Linked DNA regions of Homo sapiens. The main gene of each other region encodes a partner of the protein of the gene in region 2 in a complex. Each region holds a gene or a part of one and is shown on either strand. Other genes may lie near its edges. The genes, in order: TMEM67 and MKS1.

Evidence for each region.
Region 1: MKS1 (region 2) and TMEM67 share a complex: the UniProt entries of both Homo sapiens proteins name them as parts of the tectonic-like complex.

What each region holds. Positions count from the first base shown.
Region 1 is NC_000008.11:93,796,238-93,799,893, reverse strand, and holds part of TMEM67 (meckelin isoform 1 precursor), read right to left. Parts: intron 2,761-3,656; coding exon 2,661-2,760; intron 2,564-2,660; coding exon 2,424-2,563; intron 277-2,423; coding exon 136-276; intron 1-135. UniProt on the Homo sapiens protein: Required for ciliary structure and function. Part of the tectonic-like complex which is required for tissue-specific ciliogenesis and may regulate ciliary membrane composition.
Region 2 is NC_000017.11:58,207,099-58,209,758, forward strand, and holds part of MKS1 (tectonic-like complex member MKS1), read right to left. Parts: intron 1,486-2,660; coding exon 1,415-1,485; exon of another isoform or gene 1,410-1,414; intron 1,077-1,409; coding exon 1,007-1,076; intron 904-1,006; coding exon 796-903; intron 632-795; coding exon of another isoform or gene 606-631; exon of another isoform or gene 463-605; intron 121-462; coding exon 1-120. UniProt on the Homo sapiens protein: Component of the tectonic-like complex, a complex localized at the transition zone of primary cilia and acting as a barrier that prevents diffusion of transmembrane proteins between the cilia and plasma membranes.

The DNA.
Region 1 (3,656 bases), on a different chromosome or scaffold from region 2:
TAGCTATTGTTCTTGTCACCTTCTTTCTGCTACAGAAAGAAGGATGTGGTCAATATTTGATGATAATCAGTAATTAGGCAGAGTTATAAAGAAGCAATGTTACTTAGAAGTAATATTACCTGTATAATTCCTTACCTGTATAATTCCAATGGCTAGCCAAAGAGCAGCAGACACTGCATATCTCAAAATGCAGCTATAAGGAGCTATGTAGCTAGGTGGGTTTCTAGAAAGACTAGAAGATGAGTCCATTAATGCTAAGTTCTTGAATCCCACAACCTGGAGTAAAAAGGAAAAGTAGTAATTTAAACGGACATGGATAAAGAAAACTACTCTAGACTGAAAACAGAAAACCTCTCCCTACTCACCTTGAAAAACTAAAATATCTAAGTTTGTATAAACAGTAGAAAATCTAGATAAAAATAATTATTATATAGTATTTTAACTACAAAGTATTTATTACACAATATTTAGTTAGCTCATTTGGCATTCTTCTCAATATGACTAAGGGCCAAATATAACCTTATTGTCATACACACTGACAAGACTAAAAATTTAATTAAAAGGATAAAACTTTCATCAGTAAACTACCAATGAGTGAAACCAACAAGTAGTATTTCATGAGTATTTGACATGTGCCAGGCACTGTACTAAACATTTTTATACTTTAAAACAGTATATTACAAAATGTCTTCTAAAGGACATAAGTTCTTGAAAAAAGAATCTATGTTTAAATACTTTTGGTCCATCCATTACACTCACCTCCATGCCTCCCACCCTTGTAGAATAAAGGCTCTGAGAAGTTTTACAGTAAAAGGTGCTACATGATTATACTGAATCCAATATTTTCCAAACTTACTTGACCATAAAACTTTTTCACATAACACCTTTTAAAGCTGAGGAAACTCTTAAACACACACACACACACACACACACACACACACACACACACACTACTTTAGTACAAAAAGAAAAGATGTGAGGTAACAGATAAACTAGCTTGATTTAGCCATTCCACAATGAATACATATATCAAAACACTGTATTGTAAACTATAAACATATGTAATTTTTATCTGTCCATTTAAGAAAAACCAAAATACCACTTCAAGTGAACTTTGGAAGTCTTGTTCATATTATTTTAAAGCCCTAGGGATACAAACATTCTTCTACTAGTTTTATAAAAGGAAAGGAAGGGAAAGGGGAAAGAGAATGGAAAGAAAGAAGAAAAAAGAGGGAAGGCAGACAGACAGACCTAAGAGTTAATGATTTATATTCAATCTTAATTAAGCAGATAATTCCTGAGAAAACCTATTCCCATATAAACTGTTTCCATGTTCAGTCTTATACTCAGTACTGAATACTTCCTTTAATAATTCCAACCAAATCCATGAAATAACTGCATATGTATCACAAACATGTTGTGTTTTGTTCAGTGTAGCCCCAGCTCTTAGCACAGAACATAGTCTACAGTAAGTGTTCAATACAAATTTGTTGAAAAATATCAAACTTATAATAGTGATTCTAATGCAGGGGAGAATATGGATCGGGGGTAGGGAGCTTTTTCAAAATATAGATACCTGGAGTTACCTCAAAGCTACTAAATCAACACATAGTCTCTAAGGGTGAGCCTGAGCATAGGTATTTTACAAAAGATCCCCAAGGGATTCTGATACAAACCAGTGGTTTTAAAGCTACTCCTTACACCTAGAGCAGTCAAACACACAGAGACAGAAAGTATTATAGAATGGTGGTTGCCTGGGGTTAGGTGTAGCAGGGAATGGGTACAGAGTTGTTTAAGGGGTATAGAGTTTCAGTTTTGCAAGATGAAGAGTTCTAAGATGAATGGTGATGATGATTTTGCGTGGCAATGTGAATGTACGTAACACTACTTTTTGTTTGTTTGTTTTTTTCTGAGATGGAGTTTTGCTCTTTCTGCCCAGGCTGGAGTTCAATGGTGCAATCTCGGCTCACTGTAACCTCCGCCTCCCGGGTTCAAGCAATTCTCCTGCCTCAGCCTCCCGAGCAGCTGGGATTATAGGCATGTGCCGCCATGCCCAGCTAATTTTGTATTTTTTGGTAGAGACGGGGTTTCTCCATGTTGGCCAGGCTGGTCTTGAACTTCCAACCTCAGGTGATCCGCCTGCCTCAGCCTCCCAAAGTGTTGGGATTACAGGCATGAGCCACTGTGCCTGGCCAACTTAACACTATTAAACTCTACACTTAAAAATGCTTAAGATGGTAAACTTAAAAAAAGAATTGTGGTAAAATACGTAACATAAAGGTACTCCTTTTTAATGGCTTCACAACAATATTTCAACCTTTAGAGAAATCTTCCACTGTCATGAAAACTTAGTTGGAATTATATTAGTTTAATATTTATAAGGTACATGTAAGTCGCATATAATCACATCAAACAGTTTATACCTCCAAAAAGAAGAGGACAGTAAGTACTTGAAAGAGTGAATTAATTTTTCTCACAGTCTGAATTTCATTCCATTCATTTGCTACAAAATATGTTCTCCATATGCTTACAGGAACAGTGGCACTTCGTACACCACCCTCACCTGGTCAGGAAAATAAAATGAGTAAAAGAGTTTTACCTCCTTTGCTCTGCAAGGGTAGCAAAAGAATTTTGGTACAAATATTTTTTATTTCAGTTACCTTCAACAGCTTTAAGAACCTTTCCTTTAGGTCGCTCCCAATCAATAAAGAATACATCTATTGTAATCTGGGATATGAGCTTATGCAAAAATTGTAGTGCCTGAGAATGACATATAATAAAACACCTGAAAAAGTACCAGCGTTAAGTCTGCTTATAAAACCAATATTGACTCTTTAAGAAACATACTGTTATCACAAGAACATATAATTTTATGAGTGAATTCACATGAAGTTATAATACCACTAAGGAATCATTAGAAGCTCATCAGATAACCTGGAATCATCAAATTCACAGAATTTTCATATACATCTTAATTTACCTTCCCTTTTTCTTTCTTTCTTTAAAATAGGAATATGAAAAGAGGAGACATTTTTCCTCCTCCTCACATAGGGACTTATATAATTGACTCTTTCCCAAAGATTCTAGAAGCACACTTTGTTTTGTAGATCAGCTGACTTCTTTATAAGTAAAGATATTTTCAACTATAGTTTGTTTTTCCTAATTAAAGTTTTCGAATGCTCTTACTGTCTTTTTTTTCTATTTCTGCTATTCAGATTTCTGATTTTTAAAGAATGTGCTGTTGAAACACATCTTTCTTATTTATACAAGCAATATGTTTAAACTGAGGCATTCTTTCTAGTTGCTGCATTATTCATCAAATAAAGGATAAAAATCTAAGTATGAGATACTTCACCTCAAGAAGCTCCCAGTCAGTGGAAAAAGCAGACACTTAACACTCACAGTAAAATAGGATAAGGACTACCAACAGGCATATAAAGAGATTCACCTACATTGATGGAGAACACTGAGTTGGGGATTGGGGGGCCATAGGAAGAAAGGAGCAAAGGAATCTGGAGACAGACAAAACAACTTTTAAGATCTCAACACTTTATCCAGAGTGGTACCTTTTACCCTTGATTAATGGAGACAAAATTCATGCCTGAAGACATTTTGTCCCATTGTGAATGTATCATCAGACTTTAAAGAAAGTTATA
Region 2 (2,660 bases):
GTATCCGTACATAGGAGAGGTCCTCCAGTTCCAGAGAACCGCCAATGAAAAACCTCCTCAGCTCAGCCACCGTGCCAAGCTCCACAGGTCTCCACGTGGAGACTGTCAGGGTGTGTGAGCCTGCGCAAGGGAAGAGAAGACTGGGGCCAGGTCCAGAAAGGGCATGTGGCCCCTCACTGACTCCCCAGCAATGACACAGGCCTAGACTCAGCTAAAACACCTGGTCTGGTGATGACCTGGCCTCTGGTGCAGGTTATCATGGTTACCCATAGCACCTGTATGGAAATCAATCAGGGAGAAATTCAAATTTCCGCTCTGCCAGTTATTACCTGCATACCCAGGACAGGTTTCTTAACCTCTCTGAAGCTCATTCTCCTCATCTAGTAAAATGGAAATAATACCACCTGCACCTCACAGAGTGACTGGGAGAATTAAGTGAGAAGTATGGCACAATGCCTGGCACACAGTAAAAGACAGATGCTTTTATTCCAAACTGAATGCTGATTCATTCAATACACATATGCTATGAGCCAATTTTGCCATACAGCTTCTCACCCTGAGTCCAATCAGAGGAGCATGAAGCACATGGAGAGACTGTCAGGAAGTCAGTGCCAAGGCCACGTCATTGTCGCTAATGGAGGGGGGCAGAAAGTCCTCAGAGGAACAGGAACTCTTTCAAGCCAAACATTTCCAATTCCCAATTATCTCCACCCCTCACCAGAAGCATTCGAGTGTTAGTCTTGTTCTTAGGGCCTAGGGCATGTGGGCCACAGAAGGGCAGAGACGAGCGGTTACCTGGAGTGGCAGGCAGCACCACAGCCCCATAGCCTTCCACACGGTACCTCTGCCAGAAGTCCAGCGAGAGGACCTCACAGTAGAGCACAGGCCACTCCGGGAGTGCATCTGGGAGCAAGGAGAGAAGCGGCCAGGTCACAGGCGGCCTTCACCAAGAGACAGCACTGCTTGAGGGGAACCAAGGCCCAGGATCAACTGCTGAGCTACTCACCAGAAGATTCATCCTCATGGAGGAAGAAGGCTTCAAACGTGAATGGGTAGGAGAAGTGAGCCACCTTGTCCTATAAAAAGGAGTGTCATAGGGTGGGCAAGGCCTCCCTTGGAATCTGTTCTCCTTGTGGCCAATGACAAGGTTATCTTCACAAGGGAAAAAGAAAAATTATCACCCAGGTGGGAAATAGGAGTCTGAGATGCAAAAGGACACCCAAATACAAGCTGCTGCCATGCTCAAAAAGACAGACAGGATCTCCGGACCAGGTGGCCCTGTAGAACCCACACACAAGTCACCCAACTCTGGAATCCTCCCCAGGGCGCACAGCACTTGGCCTGATAAAACCTCAAATGCCATCCCAGGAGCAGATCTCATTCCCTTCCAGATACCCGCTCTCATTCTCCATACCATTGCCAGGGACTTGGTGGTGCAGGTCTGTGTTACTCCTGAGAGCTGCTGGAATGCTGGGCTTGACCAGTCTGAAAGCCAAAGACCAAATATAGTAAGCTCGCCTGGGAGGAAAGCAAGTCATTCAGAAAAAGACAGTTTCTTTTTTCTTTTCTTTTTTTTTTTTGTATTTATTGATCATTCTTGGGTGTTTCTCGGAGAGGGGGATGTGGCAGGGTCATAGGATAATAGTGGAGAGAAGGTCAGCAGATAAACACGTGAACAAAGGTCTCTGGTTCTCCTAGGCAGAGGTCCCTGCGGCCTTCCACAGTGTTTGTGTCCCTGGGTACTTGAGATTAGGGAGTGGTGATGACTCTTAAGGAGCATGCTGCCTTCAAGCACCTGTTTAACAAAGCACATCTTGCACCGCCCTTAATCCATTTAACCTTGAGTTGACACAGCACATGTTTCAGAGAGCACGGGGTTGGGGGTAAGGTTATAGATTAACAGCATCCCAAGGCAGAAGAATTTTTCTTAGTACAGAACAAAATGGAGTCTCCTATGTCTACTTCTTTCTACACAGACACAGTAACAATCTGATCTCTCTTTCTTTTCCCCACATTTCCCCCTTTTCTTTTTGACAAAACCGCCATCGTCATCATGGCCCATTCTCAATGGTCGCTGTCTCTTCGGAGCTGTTGGGTACACCTCCCAGATGGGGCGGCCGGGCAGAGGCGCTCCTCACTTCCCAGACGGGGCGGACAGTTTCTTTATTCATTTATTCACACAATCAATCATTCATTTACCATTTACTGAGTGCCTGCTATGTGCTAGTATATCTTAGGGGTATCTTGGTAACTAGATAGAAAAGATCCCCATCTCTCATGGAGCTGACATTCTGGGGGAAGCAGGGAGACAGACAAAAACCAAACCAACAAGAGACTATTGGGTAGTGATGAGTGCTATACTAAAAACAAAACGGGGAAGGGACTGAGTGATTGGGAGGCTCATTTAGACTGGGTGGTAAGAGAAGGCCTCTCAGAGGCGACACAGGCTGAGACCTAAACTCAGAAAGAACCAGCCATGCTAAGATATGGCAGAAAGGGTTTCAGACAAAGGAAACGGCCCTTAAAAGGCTACAAGGTGGGAATGAACCTGGCTGGGAAGAATGACTGGAAGGTTGTATGGAAGAGATAGGCAGGGGCCAGCTCATTCAGGGTATCAAGTTTACATTTTACTCTAAGTGGGAGGGGAAGCTGTTGGGGTT